Linked DNA regions of Homo sapiens. The protein of the gene in region 3 purifies or fractionates together with the protein of the main gene of each other region. This does not show direct contact. Each region holds a gene or a part of one and is shown on either strand. Other genes may lie near its edges.

Region 1 (3,936 bases), on a different chromosome or scaffold from region 3:
AGACTCATCCCCAGGGATGTCCCTCTCAAAGTTGGCACTTCCTTGAGGAAGAGTCATACAGAGAAGACACTGAAAGGCCACATCTGTGAGCATTGGAAGTCAGGGACAGGAATGGCACTTCCTAATCTCAAGGCCAGGGGTCTGTGAAAGATCTTCTTTGAGAATAACAAAGACCTTAACTTCAACCAAGCATCTCTATGACCCGCTGTGAAATCTGAGGGAAGTCACTTATCCTTTCTGGCTCTCAATATTTTTATCTGGGGGAAAAAAAAGAAAAGAAAATCATCTACAAAGTGCTTTTAGAAATATAAGGAAATAACACATGGCAAGTGCAAACATGTAACACCTTACGAAAGTGGTGTTATTGTTTGAAAAAACAATGGATGGCTGGATGCTGGCTCACAGCTGTAATGCCAGCACTTTGGGAGGCCAAGGAGGGTGGATTGCTTGAGGTCAGTAGCTCAAGACCAGCCTGGCCAACATGGAGAAACCTTGTCTCTACTAAATAGAAACCAAAATTAGCTAGCATGCACCTGTAGTCCCAACTACTTGGGAGGCTGAGGCATGAGAATCGCTTGAACCTGGGAAGCGGAGGTTGCAGTGAGCCGAGATCGTGCCACTGCACACCAGCCTGGGCGACAGAGAGAGACTTTGTCTCAAAACAATAAAAATATATAAAATAAAAAACAAGGGTTATCATAAATTTGTCATTCCCTTGTCCTTGAAATGGTTATCATTAATGAATAACAATTCCAATTTAATCATGATTAAAACAGTCACTTTATTTAATCTCAGCAATTTTCCAGCTGTGATATATGATAAATTATCAACACAGGGCCTACGTGTCAGGTAGAAAACCACATCTACTCATAGTGGGTTATCTGGAACAGGCTTTACCTCCCAAGGGCCTCAGAAAGCCTCTCTCTTCTGTTCCCACAGCCATCTCCACGAAGAGTCCCATATTTGGTCCCGAGGAGGTGAATAGTGTGGAAGGTAACTCAGTGTCCATCACGTGCTACTACCCACCCACCTCTGTCAACCGGCACACCCGGAAGTACTGGTGCCGGCAGGGAGCTAGAGGTGGCTGCATAACCCTCATCTCCTCGGAGGGCTACGTCTCCAGCAAATATGCAGGCAGGGCTAACCTCACCAACTTCCCGGAGAACGGCACATTTGTGGTGAACATTGCCCAGCTGAGCCAGGATGACTCCGGGCGCTACAAGTGTGGCCTGGGCATCAATAGCCGAGGCCTGTCCTTTGATGTCAGCCTGGAGGTCAGCCAGGGTAAGGATCCAAGCTCCTTGGGCTTCTGGGGGAAAGTTAGAGGGAATTCTCTAAGGTGCATGGAGGGCTTGAGGAGGAACTTCCTGACAAGGATGTGTAGCCGGGTTGGGGGTCAGAAGGCACCCCTTTCCCCAGGCAAAGACTTCTTTAACAGGAGAAGGAGACAGATAGGGCCTACTTGGGGGTGATGAGTGAACCCTTCTAGGACTTGGTGGCCTATAACATTTTAGGCTTTCTGGAGACCCCAGCTTAGAAGGGTATCAGAAGGACAAGTTTTCTGGTGTTTGCTACAGGTAGAAAGGGAAATCTGACATCAGGCTAAGGAGATAGAAAAGGTAGGGAGAGATTTACAGGGATCCTTAAATTCCTATCATTAATGCACCTTTCCATCAAGGTTTGGGCCGCCAAAAGGCTTCTTGTAAAATGCATATTTTTTTTTTAACCTGGGAACCCTTAGTCTTTTGGTATTATCAGGGTAAATTAGATTATTAGATCTTGACCAAAGACCAAGATCCTGAAAGGATGGGTTGCTAACAAGCCTATTCTAGTTGGAGAAAGAGAAAAAAAGAAAAGCTCTTTCTGACAAGGGTTTAACAATGAGGCTGTTTTAGATAGTCAAGGGCAACTCAAAAGAGAGGTCTACGGAGAAAAGAAATTCAGGGGGACTCCCAAAGACATGTCTTGCTCCTTTGGAATATGCATACTATTGTCTGTGGACTAAATGAGGAGGTCATTTAGGTGGGGATCAAGATTCAAAACCACAGAATCTTTAGAGGTGAAGAGGGCTTAGAGTTCACCCTAACCGGACACTTAGAAGAACATGCTGATGACGGGTATGCAGCCTCTGATTAAGCACTTTAGCAGAAACTCACTGCTCCCTGAGACAGCCCATTTCACATTTAGACTCTTGTAATTTTTAGAAACTTCTATTGTATGCGTTGAAATCCATCACCCTGCATTTACATTCATTCTGTTCATTTCAGCACACATTAATTTGGCCACCTACTACCCAGAGGCATTGTGCTTGTCACAGCAGAGGGGTCAAACATGAGAAAAACATGTTCCAGCCTTCAAGGAACTTCCAGTCCATGGAGAACATAATTACCCATACACCAGATTGGATGTAATAAGTGATGCAGATGTATCAAGAAAGCACAGGGCAGGGAGAGATTAGTGTTAGCTTGGGAAAGGTTTCATGGAGAAGACCGCTGTCAAGCTGGGCCTTCCGACAGCATTCCTCTGGGAAGGAGGGCATTCCAGGTTATAAGTCCACCCACACCCTAACTAGGAATAGCAAATAGTCCTATGTTGCAAGAAAGTAGAATCGTAACTTGCCTGCCCCCTACCTTGCACCCCTCATCCTGCAGGTCCTGGGCTCCTAAATGACACTAAAGTCTACACAGTGGACCTGGGCAGAACGGTGACCATCAACTGCCCTTTCAAGACTGAGAATGCTCAAAAGAGGAAGTCCTTGTACAAGCAGATAGGCCTGTACCCTGTGCTGGTCATCGACTCCAGTGGTTATGTAAATCCCAACTATACAGGAAGAATACGCCTTGATATTCAGGGTACTGGCCAGTTACTGTTCAGCGTTGTCATCAACCAACTCAGGCTCAGCGATGCTGGGCAGTATCTCTGCCAGGCTGGGGATGATTCCAATAGTAATAAGAAGAATGCTGACCTCCAAGTGCTAAAGCCCGAGCCCGAGCTGGTTTATGAAGACCTGAGGGGCTCAGTGACCTTCCACTGTGCCCTGGGCCCTGAGGTGGCAAACGTGGCCAAATTTCTGTGCCGACAGAGCAGTGGGGAAAACTGTGACGTGGTCGTCAACACCCTGGGGAAGAGGGCCCCAGCCTTTGAGGGCAGGATCCTGCTCAACCCCCAGGACAAGGATGGCTCATTCAGTGTGGTGATCACAGGCCTGAGGAAGGAGGATGCAGGGCGCTACCTGTGTGGAGCCCATTCGGATGGTCAGCTGCAGGAAGGCTCGCCTATCCAGGCCTGGCAACTCTTCGTCAATGAGGGTAAGACCCTAGAGAGGGAGGGGGAGTAGGTGGGGCAGTCTCGCAGGTGAGAGCCAAGCTCAGCTCCCTCTGAGTGTATTCATCAATAGTCATCAATCAGCCAACAGCATCCACTCAATGACCAGCCCCGAACTGGAGGCTGCGTGGGCTGCTGCACAGGACAGCAAGAAAAAGCAACCTCTGCCTGATGGCAGCTCCTAATTACTCTTCTGTTATCAAAGTCATTTTGATGGCTGTCCCTGCTTAACAAGCAAGAGGTGAGTAAAGCTCTTGATTGAGGCAGGACTTATAGACTGTGTTTCAGGGCTGTGGCAGGCTCTGCAGGGGTCCTCTGTCCCCTCCCCTGGCCCCTGAACAAGATGGGTGCCTCATCCCTCACATTCAGATGGAAAAAGGATTGGCTTATCTTGGTCTCAATGCGTTCCCAGGAGTGCCCCAGCCTCTAAATGTTTCACTGTCACATTTCGTAGGGTTATTTGTGAATTTCAGCACCATCTGGCCCACTCAGCCCTACTCCAGTGAGCCATCAGCATGGTGAAAGAATTAAATCCCAGCTCCTTCTCATCCCAGAGCACCCTGCATAGAGTTGCCCTCGTGAGAAGCAGCAAACCAGTACTTGCAGTTCCAA
Region 2 (3,936 bases), on a different chromosome or scaffold from region 3:
CTCACATTCCATGATCTCGGTCTTTCCCTTTCCAGATGGTCTCTGAGGATGTTGCAAAGAATGTCCAGATCTTATAGGAACATGTATGAAACATGCTGCAACAGACCAGCAGTGGAGGTTTGGCTCTGTCCTGTGTCTGCCACTGAATAGCTGAGTGACTTTGGTCAAGTCACTTAATGTGCCTGGATGTCGGCTTATTCATTTATAAAATGATTTGGATTAAATTAAATTCCAGATCCAAAGTCTAATTTTATTTGCTTTGAAATAGTTATGTGGTTCATTCCCTTAATCACATGAGCCTCACGAAGGCCCCTCTTTGATTCACCTCTGTAAGTCCAATACCTAAAACTATGCCTGGCATATGGCAGGTACTCATTAGCTATTAATTGAATGAGTAAATGCATGGAAATGATAACAATAACTAATTTGTTATTGAATAAAGTATTAACATTTAAAAGTGTTTATTCATATGTAAAATAGTTTCAGCTATTTTACTTTAGGTGACCAAAATAATACCTACCACATTTTTATATGAAGGCAAATTGATTAAAATCCTATTAATTTTAATGTTAGCTTGGCCTGGAACATGTATCAAATGACCAGTTTGTTTGATTTACTTAATATATTGATTAGTTATTATGATTGGCAGTTACAGGTGGTTATAACAGAAATTGTAGACTAGAGTTGGATTTAGAGAAGTCTGAGAGAGGAAGGAGTTGAAAATGCATGCCTCTAAAGTTTGAGTTTAGGTGACTGAAGTATGGAGGTCCTTATAATAAATATAGATATGCCAGGGAGGGTGTATTAAAGATAGCAACCCTGCCTGCCTGTTCACATTCATTATTTATTTTTATTAAAAAAGTCTTCATGTAACACTTTATGTTAGGCCCTATTCTGAGTGGTTTACAAATACAAATTTATTTAATTTCTTAGTAATATCATAAGGTGGGTACGGTTATTATCTTCATTATATGGATGGGAAAACTGAGTCTCAGACTAAGTAACTTTTAGGAGAATGTTTCTCCATTTGCAAACTGTACTTTTGAGAGCAGAGAAGAGGGAGAAGACATGAGGAACAAGGATAGAGTAGGCTGGAGTCAAGGGAAGGAGAAGGAGAGACACATGGCACTTGCAGCAAGAAAGGAGGGTATGAGAAAGCAGAAGACTCCTAAAATAACTAGAGGAATGCCAAATTCTCTGAGGAAGGAAGAGGAGGAGAAAATTAGTCAGAAAGGGAGAGAATTAGAAGACAGAAAGGCCAAGATTACATTTTTTACTTTTGTATTTTGAGACAGAGTCTCACTCTGTCACCCAGTTGGAGTGCAGTGGCATGATCTCAGCTCACTGCAACCTACGTCTCCTGGGTTCAAGGGATTCTCCTGCCTCAGCCTCCCTAGAAGCTGGAATTACAGGTGTGTACTGCATGCCTGGCTAATTTTTGTATTCTTAGTAGAGATGGGGGTTTCACCATGTTGGCCAGGCTGGTCTTGAACTCCTGACCTCAGGTGATCTTCCCGCCGCGGCCTCTGAAAGTGCTGGAATTACAGGTGTGAGCCACGGCACCCGGCCCAAGATTACATTTAATTGAAATTAGAAAGCACAATTCATTTCTTCATTTGCTACCAGCTTATTTTTATGACCATTTGAAAATCTGTGATCCTTTTTTAAAGAGAATGAAAGCATTATGCTAAATAATGCTATAGTTGACAGAGCTCTTCATCTGACTCCAGAATACATCCCTTCAAGTCTTTCTTTGGGACATCTGGAAGAGAGAAGCCAGACTATCTGCTCCCTGAAATCACTCCACAAAAGCAGGTTGTTGCTAGAGCTCCAGGACTGACCTTTTCTGGCTGTGGGTTAATGCTAATCTCCGGTACATTCCTGTATTTTCTTTTCTTTTTATTTTTTTTGAGACGGAGTCTCGCTCTGTCACCCAGGCTGAAGTGCAGTGGCACGATCTTGGCTCACTGCAACCTCTGCCTCCCAAGTTCAAGTGATTCTCCTCCATCAGCCTCCCAAGTAGCTGCAATTACAGGTGTGGGCCACCACGCCCAGCTAATTTTTGTATTTTTAGTAGAGACGATGTTTCACCATGTTGGCCAGGCTGGTCTCGAACTCCTGACCTCACATTCCTGTATTTTCTAAGGATCAGGTCAAGGTATTTCTGTGCTACCTTCTCATATTCAAGTTCTTTGGAAACTCTTTCTCTCACCAGGCACTTTTTTGAGATTTGGGCAGCTTGAAGAGTTTTATTTATTCTAAGCACTTGGAAGAAAGGATTCTTTAGGTGTCTGGATTTGAGGGAGTTATGATGAAAGGCCACTTCAAAAGAACAACCCAGATTCATCATTTCACAATAACATGACTTGTGTTGATTGGAAAATTATTTCTTTCAATATAGAGGTGTTGGTAGCCAGGGATTCCTTATTAAAACTTTACTTATTAAAAAGTTAACATCACTGTGCATATTCAGAACTTAAAGCCTTATCAACTAGTATGTAAATTGAGATTACAATAATCTTGTCATAATTTTTATATCTACACTATAGTTTATAATTTATAAATTCTCATTTACCCTTCAGCAGCCCTGTGAAGCATATAGTGTTGTTATTATTTTACACATAGGGAAATTGGGGCCCTATAAATAGATTCTAAATTGCTCAAGATTCATCTGGATGGTAAACATTAGAGATGAGTTTAAGCCCACATCTTCTGAGCCCAGCTTGAACACTCTTCTAGTCACAGAAATCAGCATTAGGGTCCGGGAAAAAGCCTGATTGTTTTCTGGGGGATATTATAAGGTAAGTGAGAAATATGAGAATATCCAAGAGTAAATTCCGTCCACTTCATCAGTTCTTCTGCCCTCTCTCTCTCTACTCTACTGGCGTAATATTCTGAGGCTATCCATCCTCATTCAATAAAAAAGTACATTCCACTTCTTGATTCTTATTTGAAATTTTGTCAAAATAAAATTTAATAAATACTTGCAGGTACATAGCATGAGAGAAAAATATGGTTATTATTACAGCATGTATCACCTTGTAATCACATTATATCATTATTAATTTTAATCTTCCTTTGCCAGTACACCCTAAATTTCTTAAAGATAGAAGGTCCACTTTGTAGTCTTCTCTTGGTTTTGGAAGCCATCCTTTCCTGTCCCCTCTTGTGGGTCCTCCATTTTCTCTATCCATATCTAAACTTCCTACATTTTCTCCCTAGGTGAAAATGTTGTAAGGTTTCATGGCTTCAAGTATGTTTTAAATATAGACTTTACCCCTAGATTTCTTTCTGAACTCCAGACAACATATATCCACTGTTTTCTTGATATCTTGATGTGGAAGTCTAATAGCCATTTCAAATGTAACATGCCCCAAACTAGAACGTTTTTGTTCATTTCTTTCTTTTTTTTTCTTTTGAGACAAAATCTTGCTCTGTCACCCAGGCTGTAGTGCAGTGATGCAATCTCGGCTCACTGCAAACTCTGCCTCCCAGGTTCGAGCAATTCTCCTGTCTCAGCCTCCTGAGTAGCTGGGATTACAGGTGCCCACCACCACACCCAGCTAATTTTTGTATTTTTAATAGAGACGGGGTTTCACCATGTTGGCCAGGCTGGTCTTGAACTCCTGACCTCGGGTGATCCACCTGCCTTGGCCTCCGAAAGTGCTGGGACTACAGGCATGAGCCACCGCGCCCGGCCTGTTCATTTCTTTCTTTTACCACATATACAATCCAGCAGAAGATATAGTAGACTCAATCACTAAAATATATCCTAAACCCACTCTTATCTTTTAATTGCTGAAATTTAGTGCAAGTCACCATCATCTTTTATCTGGACCACTGCCATAGCTTCCTGACTAGTCTCCTTATCTCAGCTTTTGTTACCTGCTACCTATCTTCTCCTGAGAATCCTGTCATGTAAATCCCCTGGGAGTG
Region 3 (3,493 bases):
GGAGGTGTCTAGGGAGGCCATAGATTGCCTGGTCTCGCCGCATTCAAAATGAGGCTTATGATCAGTACTTTTTTCAGCCCCACATTCCTCTCCAGAATGGCCTCTGCCCTACAGCACCTGGCCCATGTGGCACCCCATGGGCCTGTCCTCTGCTGTTGTGAGGTCGACCTCACGACCCAGCACAGGAGCTGGAGGCGAGGTGCACGCGAGGCTCTCCACAGCCCAGGAAGGCAGCCTGTCACCCTGCTCTCCGAGCCAGGGGCCAAGGTGTGGGGGGCACAGGCCATCCTCATCCTGCCAGGCCCCCGCTTTCAGGAGTGGGGTGGTGCCAATGCTCCCACTCAGAACCCTGGACTGCGGGGTCCCCTGAGCAGAGGGACCAGCCAGTTCCCCATAGACAGATTGGTGCTGGACAGGGGCTGCCTGGGCCCCAGGCTTGGGGAGGGTAGAAAGGCCCTGCAGTGCTGCTGCCTGGGCCCGGAGGTGGGCCTGGCCCCGTAGCAGCATTGGAGGCCAGAGCCCAAGCCAGTTCCGGAGTCACACCCAACGGCGGAGGGAGAACCTACCCATCTCCCACCTTCAGCTCTGGGGAGGCATGCTCTGGGCCTCTGGAGCCAGGGCTCAGGCCCCCAACTCTCCTCCTTGCCCCTGCACCCTCGGACTTGGCCTGGCCAGAAGGGATGGGGGCAAGAGGAAGGCAGCCAGGGGCTCCAGCCCATGCCCTCACAGATTTGGCTCTCGAGTTGGGGAGCGAAGGGCTGGGGGAGGACACTGGGAACCGGGCCAGCCGTGGCCCTGCACTTCCCCCAGGGAGCACCAAGGCTAGGCGCGGCTTCACCGCGGGGCTGGGTCGTGGCCAGCTTCGCCCCTGGGTCTGAAGACCTCTGGGCGGCCCAGGCCAACCTTGCCCTGCCGCCGCACACTCGGCTGCCTTCTCATACCCAGGCTTGGGGATTTCCAGGTCCCGTTCCCCTCGTGGCCTGGCTGCCAGTCCTCCAGCACCCCTCACTCCGAGGCCGCCTCATTTATTTATTCGTTTGCCATTAACTGCGGGGTGAGCGGAGTAGGGGAGACCTGGGGCGCCATCCCGCGCCGGAGGGGCCTGGGGTCACCGAGTGGGACGGTGGGGGCGGGGGGCCCCCAGCGGTGCCAGGAGAGGTCCGGGCTCAGGCGGCGAGGCAGTCGGCTGCGCGCAGGGACAGGAAGACGTTCGCCTTGCACTGGTAGGTCCCGCGGCCGTCGGGGAGCCGCTCGCACCTCTGCAGGTTTGGGGCGACGTCCTGGACGCACACAGCCTGGGGGGCAGGCAAGCAAAGGCTGAGGGGCCGCCGCACCCCCACCCACGTCCTGCCGCCGCCCCCCATCAGTCCCCGGCACGCCGGACTCACGAGGCTCCGCAGCCTGGGGTGCAGTTGCAGCTCCGGGGAGGCGCCGGCCCCGCCCGGGGGTTCCGCCCCTCTGTAGGGCTGGGAGCGCCGCGCGTACGGGGACCTGCGGAGGCCGGACAGCAGCCCCGCGGCGCGGCCCACCGAGTAGGAGCTGTGCCCCGCCGCTGGCTTGTACCACGCGAGGCCAGGCGGCGCCAGCAGCAGGCACAGCGCCAGGGCGGCGGCCGCCAGTGTCGCGGACCGGGCCATGGGGACGCCGGCTGACTGGTGGGCGGCGGCGTCCGGGCTCGGAGCAGCCACCGCCTGGGCCGCCTTATATCTGCGGCGAGGGCGGGCCGAGGCTGCGGAGGGCCGGGAGGGGCGGCGGGCGGGCTGGGGTGCAGCGGGCGCGCGCGGAGGAGCCGTCGCACCTCCGCATCCCAAAGGAACCAGCCGCGCGGGCGAGCGCTGGAGGCGCGCAAGGATCTGGCGCTTGGTGGGAGCCCAACGCCCCCTCAAGCTCCCCACCCATGCCGCTCGCGCCCTTCAGGCCCGGCTTGCGTGGGCCGCAGTGGCAGCAGGGGAGGGCCCACGGGCGCCCAGCCCTAGGAGTCGTCCCCCAGGCAATCCCCAGTACTCCTGATGCTGGAGAGCCAGCCACACTGCACAGTGCCCCGGGGGCGGTTTCTACCACCCTAAGGGGTATTCTTGGCTCCAGGCATCAGAGTCCATGTGGCTTGTGGGGCCCTCATTTCTTTCATGCCCACTGGGGAAGGTTCCACCAGCAGGGCTGTTACTGGCGGGGTCCTCTGGGAGGGGGGCAAGAAGGCCAGCCACACCAAGGCACTGGAGCTCCACGACTCCTGGCCTTCGATTGGAGGCCCCTCTCTGCCAGCTCTGCCCCTTGGGGGGCACCAGGCAGGACTGCCAGCCGCTCTCCTGGCAGGTGACATCAGCCTTCAAGCTCACTGTGCCCTCACCATTTCATGCTCCCCCAAGGTCCTGGTCATGTCTTCTCTTGGGTATCTTCCCAGGACAGGCACTGGCACTGGAGCCCTGGCACTTGTTTCTGGGTTCCATGCTTCCCAGGTGTGATGGTGAATGCTGAGTGTCAGCTTGACTGGATTGAAGGATGCAAAGTATTGTCACTGGGTGTGTCTGTGAGGGTGTTGCCAGAGGAGATTCCCATTTGAGTCAGTGGGCTGGGAGAGGCAGACCCACCCTCAATCCAGGTGGGCACCACCTAATCGGCTGCCAGCACAGCCAGGATACAAGCAGGCAGAGGAACGTGGAAAGACTAGACTGGCTGAATCTGGCCTCCATCTTTCTCCCATGCTGGATGCTTCCCGCCCTCGCACGTCGGCCTCCAGGTTCTTCAGCTTTTGGACTCTCGGACCTACACCAGTGGCTTGCCAGGGGCTCTGCAGCCTTTGGCCACAGGATGAAGGCTGCACTATCGGCTTCTCTACTTTTGTTTTGGGACTCAGACTGGCTTCCTTGCTCCTCACCTTGCACATGGCTTATTGTGGGACTTCACCTTGTGATCACGTGAGTCAATACTCCCAATAAACTCTTCATATATACTCTTCATATAGAGTCCTGTCTCTCTAGAGAACCCTGACACAGATTTCAGGTGAGGCCTGGTCTACTCCTCAGGTTGCTGTGAGGAAGGGTCAAGAGACACTGGGCACGGGTCACTGGCCCCATGAATGCCAAGGGCTCCCTAGGTTACTGGAGACACAGCCTGTGCTCTGTCCAGAAGCAGCCTGAGATGCCGGGGCTGCCACTCCCCCAGCGGCCCCTTCCCACCACGATTGTGGGGAGCAGAGGCACACAAAGGAGCCTCCCAGGGCCACCTTTCCCTAGGAAGGGAAGCCTCAGACGTGTGGACACACTTCCCAGTGTCAGGACACTGATCCCTACACTGTGGGAGGCCCAGCCCCGCTGCAGACAGTCCCAGTGAGAACAATGGACGCCCACTCAGAGATGGTGGCCTTCAGTCTGGAGGCGCCACAAGCAGTGGCCGCCAGCTTTGCACAGCCAGGGTCCCTCAGAGCCAGCCTGAGGGAGGGTCCCAGGGCCGCCGCCGGCAATCCAGCAGGCAAGAGCATGCCTGAAGAGCATGC
Region 4 (3,936 bases), on a different chromosome or scaffold from region 3:
AATGAGTCTTTATAGTCTTAGGTTCTAAATATAACCATGACGAGAGGTTATTAGATTTTTAAATGCCTGAATTCAGGCTGGGCATGGTGGCTCATGAATATGAGCCAGCCTGGGAGGCGGAGGTTGCAGTGAGCTGAGATAGCACCACTACACTCCAGTCTGGGCAACAGAATGAGACCCTGTCTCAAAAAAAATTTTTTCTTAAATACCTGAATTCAAGTATTTCAATCACAAGAAGATATAAAACTTCATAATTTGAGGCAGAAGCACAATCCACCTAACTGAGTGATTTGCCAAAAGTTCTAATAAGCAGGGATGTATCAACCACCTCCATTGCCCAAACCAAGCTTAAAAATGCACCTGGATTTAAGCTGCTTCTTTCCCATTAGCATTTCAAAGTCAAAATCAGAGGTCCGGGTTTCTGGGGAGGTGGAGGAGGGCCGCAGGGACAGGAGGTAACTGGAAGCACGACCAGGGAGGGAGGAGGTGGTGTGGGGGTTTTCCCACTTCATACCCCACCCCTGATGTCTGAGGGCCACCAATTCTCTCTGCACCTTCTGGGGTCTGTTTCCTCCATTATTTCCCACATATTAAATGGAGCTGACCACTTCCAGGGGGCACACAGCACGGGTTCTGTACTGACTGGTGGGCACTGCTGATGGATGGTGGCTATGGGGAGGCAGGGCCTCCAGCTGACCCAGGAGCCAAATTAAGAAGAAGAAGAGGCTTCCTCATGCCTGACCCATACCCAAGCCCCACACCACATCATCCCTGTGTGTTTTGACAACCATGCTGCCTCTAGCACCCCATCTGGACCCAGCCCTGCCTCGGCCCTTTTCTAAGGGGGCATTTAGGAACGCAAGGGGGCAGGGCAGCAGCTACTCACGTCATTAAACACTTTGTCCAGCTCCTTGGGATCCATGATGAAGTTGGGGTATCCTATCATGTTGTAGATGGCATCGGCCTGGACAGGACAGACAGAGGAAGTGAGTGCCCGGCAACATCGACCAGGCCAGCCTGAGCAACTTGGGTGCTGGGCTCATAGTCTGGGCCAAGGGGAACCAGAGCCAGGCCCTGCCTGCCTTGGGCTTTCATGTCTTTTTCTGGAAAGGTTTCCCCCTTGCAAAACTTCTACTTATCCCTTAGGTCTCTGTTTAAATGTCACTTTCCCAAGGGAAGTCTTCCCTGACTCCCATCCCACTGGAGGGTGCCAGAGCCTTCCCGACCCACGGGACGTGCTGCGTTTTCCTGCACCTTTTCCCCGTACACTCAGCGAGGTTTGTCTTCTACAGACATCCAAGCAATCATGTGCTTGAGGCCTACCCCGAATCCTGCTAGGCCTAGACCGCTCACCCGCTGAAGGCGAGACAGCATCCAGGCTGTGCTGCCGGACAGAACTGGCCTCACCGGGCGCGGTGGCTTATGCCTATAATGCCAGCGCTTTGGCAGGCCAAGGCGGGTCGATCACCTGAGGTCGGGAGTTTGAGACCAACCTGACCCACATGGAGAAACCCCATCTCTACTAAAAATACAAAATTAACCGAGCGTGGTGGCGCACGCCTGTAATCCCAGCTGCTCGGGAGGCTGAGGTGGGAGAATCGCTTGAACCCGGGAGGCGGAGGTTGCGGTGAGCCAAGATCGCACCATAGCACTCCAGCCTGGGTAACAAGAACGAAACTCTGCCTCAAAAAACAAACAAAAAAACCGGCCTCTCCTTCCCCCACCCTCCTCTATCTGTGCTGGACGCCGCAGCACCCCCTCCAAGTGCCTGGCCAGCCTCACCTTTTCCTTGGCTGATTTTCGGGTTTCCTCATCCATCCACTTCAGGGTGCTCAGGCTTTCCTCAAATGCCTTCTTAATCTCCAGGATGATCTCGGTGGCCTGAGGAGATACACATCACAGCAGTAAGGTCTGCGCACTGGTCTCAGGTAAATGCAACAGGCACCCCGTGCAGAACAATGATGGCCAGAGATTAAACTCAATTTTCCAAGCGTCAGGCTGGGTGAGAAGGGGAGCCACAGCTGTGCTTCCAAACCACGCTCCTAACGTGAACACCCTGCAAGACAGGACTGGCCTTCCACACACAGGGCTCCATGCTCCAATAAGCTTAGGATGAGCTTCGGGAAAGTTGGAAAAGTCTCTGCTGTGGTACTTTTCAGAGCCTTTAATATGGTAATAATAGGCACCGTGATTCTTCCAGAGAGGGGAGAAGACACAGCCTCTCCCAGCCTTATTGCCTTATTGGACCACAGCATTCCTTTTTGATGGAGCGGGCTTTAAGATCTAGAGTACTCATGTTCCGAGGAGCAGCTTCGGAAATACCATGCTCAGGCTGGATATAGACAGGTGTTCTTGAGGGAGACAATGTCATGAGCAGACAAGCTCGAAGATGGAAAGTTGAAGGTTCTAGAGAAGGGGAAGGCAGAGCTGTGCGGCAACAAGAGCAGAGGGGCCAGCAGACCCCAACTCAGACCCTGCCCAGCTGCTCACAGGCCAGTCACTGTAATGGATTTGAATTGCGGTTGGCTCACCTCCGGCTGCAGATGACAGCTACATAATGAATACTATTTGTCATCAAGATTGTAACAATAAAATGACCACTCCCATTAGCTGAACCCTTATTGTATGCCGGTGCCCAGTGTGTGGCATCTCATTTAATCTCTCTCTGTGGGAGGAATGCCCCCGTCTCCACATTGCAGATGATGTAAGAACTGTCCCAGGCCACCCGACCAGCGGTGAGGCCAGGATCTGAGCTTAGGCCGGGCTGTCTCCAAGGCGCTCTGCCATGGCACTCCTCTGCCTGTCTAGAACAAACCTGTCACCCACAAAATAAGAAAAATGTCACCCTCTGGGCCAGAGCTGTTCTGCCAACATTCTCTCTGGGTCGTTCACAGCCCTTGGAGGTGGGGATGGCTGTCACAGCCTTGCAGGCTGCTGGGAGGATCACATGAGCTCGTGCAGATAAGGGCCTGGCACTGAAGAGCTGCCCTCGTGAGACTCCCATTACCCAGGGCTCGAGGAAGTGAAGCCTCTGCATTGAGGCTGTGGCCCTAAGGTCCCCTGCCCAGGAGCAGGAAAGGCCCAGGGTGGGCTGGAGTGTGAACTGGCAGGTCTGTGCAGGCCACAACAAGTGTGACCTCACAGCCTGTGTCCACGGGGAAGGCACTTACTATGCTCTTGCTGTCCTCGGCGAAGGTTGCTTTGACAAACATGGGGCCCAACGCAAAGCCCAGGTTGTTTTCTGTGTCACTCACGCAAAACTTCCAGCGAGGAAGACAGGTCTGGAAAACACAAGTCAGGGGGCTCGCTGGGCCCCAGCCCTTTGTTTCCCAACCCCTTTCTTGCTGGGAGGTAGCACCATGTGGGGCCCATGCTTTGTTCTGGAAGTTCAGGGAGAGCTTTCCGACCCAGTAAAGTTATTTTAGTCACCGGACCAAGAGGCCACTGATACCCTCACTCCCACCCCCTGCCATTTCCTGAATGCCAGGCTCTGTGCTGGGACTTCACAAATAGTGTCCCGTTGAGCCATTCAATGACCCTCGGGGCTTACAAGCCGTTTGACTGATGGGGAAACACACTCGGCACGGAGCAGCTGCTGGCCCAGGGTGCCCCACGAGTGACAAGTGTTGTTGGAATGAGAACTGAGACGTGCCTGACTCCACATCCTATGCTCCTACCTACCCCCATCTCGTCCTGCCTCCTGGGAAGAGCAGGAGTCCTGGAGGCAAAGAGCGGTGGAGAGTGACTGGTCTACCCTGAGTCACAGAAAAAACTGCCCCAGGGCCAGGGCTCCAATGCCATTGAAGATCTCCTCAAATGAGAACACCACAGCAACACCGCAGGACTTTTTTCTTTTTTTCTTTTTTTTTGGCAGGGTCTCGCTCTGTCACCTAGGCTGGAGTGCAGTGGTGCGATCACACAGCTCACTGCAGCCTC

What was found.
Region 1: the proteins of NPB (region 3) and PIGR purify together in Homo sapiens (affinity purification with mass spectrometry; 2 studies listed by BioGRID and IntAct, with this or other methods). This does not show direct contact.
Region 2: the proteins of NPB (region 3) and MUC7 purify together in Homo sapiens (affinity purification with mass spectrometry; 2 studies listed by BioGRID and IntAct, with this or other methods). This does not show direct contact.
Region 4: the proteins of NPB (region 3) and ECE1 purify together in Homo sapiens (affinity purification with mass spectrometry; 2 studies listed by BioGRID and IntAct, with this or other methods). This does not show direct contact.

The regions. Positions count from the first base shown.
Region 1 is NC_000001.11:206,936,467-206,940,402, reverse strand, and holds part of PIGR (polymeric immunoglobulin receptor precursor), read left to right. Parts: intron 1-939; coding exon 940-1,284; intron 1,285-2,651; coding exon 2,652-3,308; intron 3,309-3,936.
Region 2 is NC_000004.12:70,474,761-70,478,696, reverse strand, and holds part of MUC7 (mucin-7 precursor), read right to left. Parts: intron 1-3,936. UniProt on the Homo sapiens protein: May function in a protective capacity by promoting the clearance of bacteria in the oral cavity and aiding in mastication, speech, and swallowing. Binds P.aeruginosa pili.
Region 3 is NC_000017.11:81,900,422-81,903,914, reverse strand, and holds NPB (neuropeptide B preproprotein), read right to left. Parts: upstream 1,678-3,493; 5' UTR 1,638-1,677; coding exon 1,389-1,637; exon of another isoform or gene 1,296-1,388; coding exon 1,167-1,295; 3' UTR 1,010-1,166; downstream 1-1,009. UniProt on the Homo sapiens protein: May be involved in the regulation of feeding, neuroendocrine system, memory, learning and in the afferent pain pathway.
Region 4 is NC_000001.11:21,234,964-21,238,899, forward strand, and holds part of ECE1 (endothelin-converting enzyme 1), read right to left. Parts: intron 3,282-3,936; coding exon 3,171-3,281; intron 1,882-3,170; coding exon 1,783-1,881; intron 965-1,782; coding exon 887-964; intron 1-886. UniProt on the Homo sapiens protein: Converts big endothelin-1 to endothelin-1.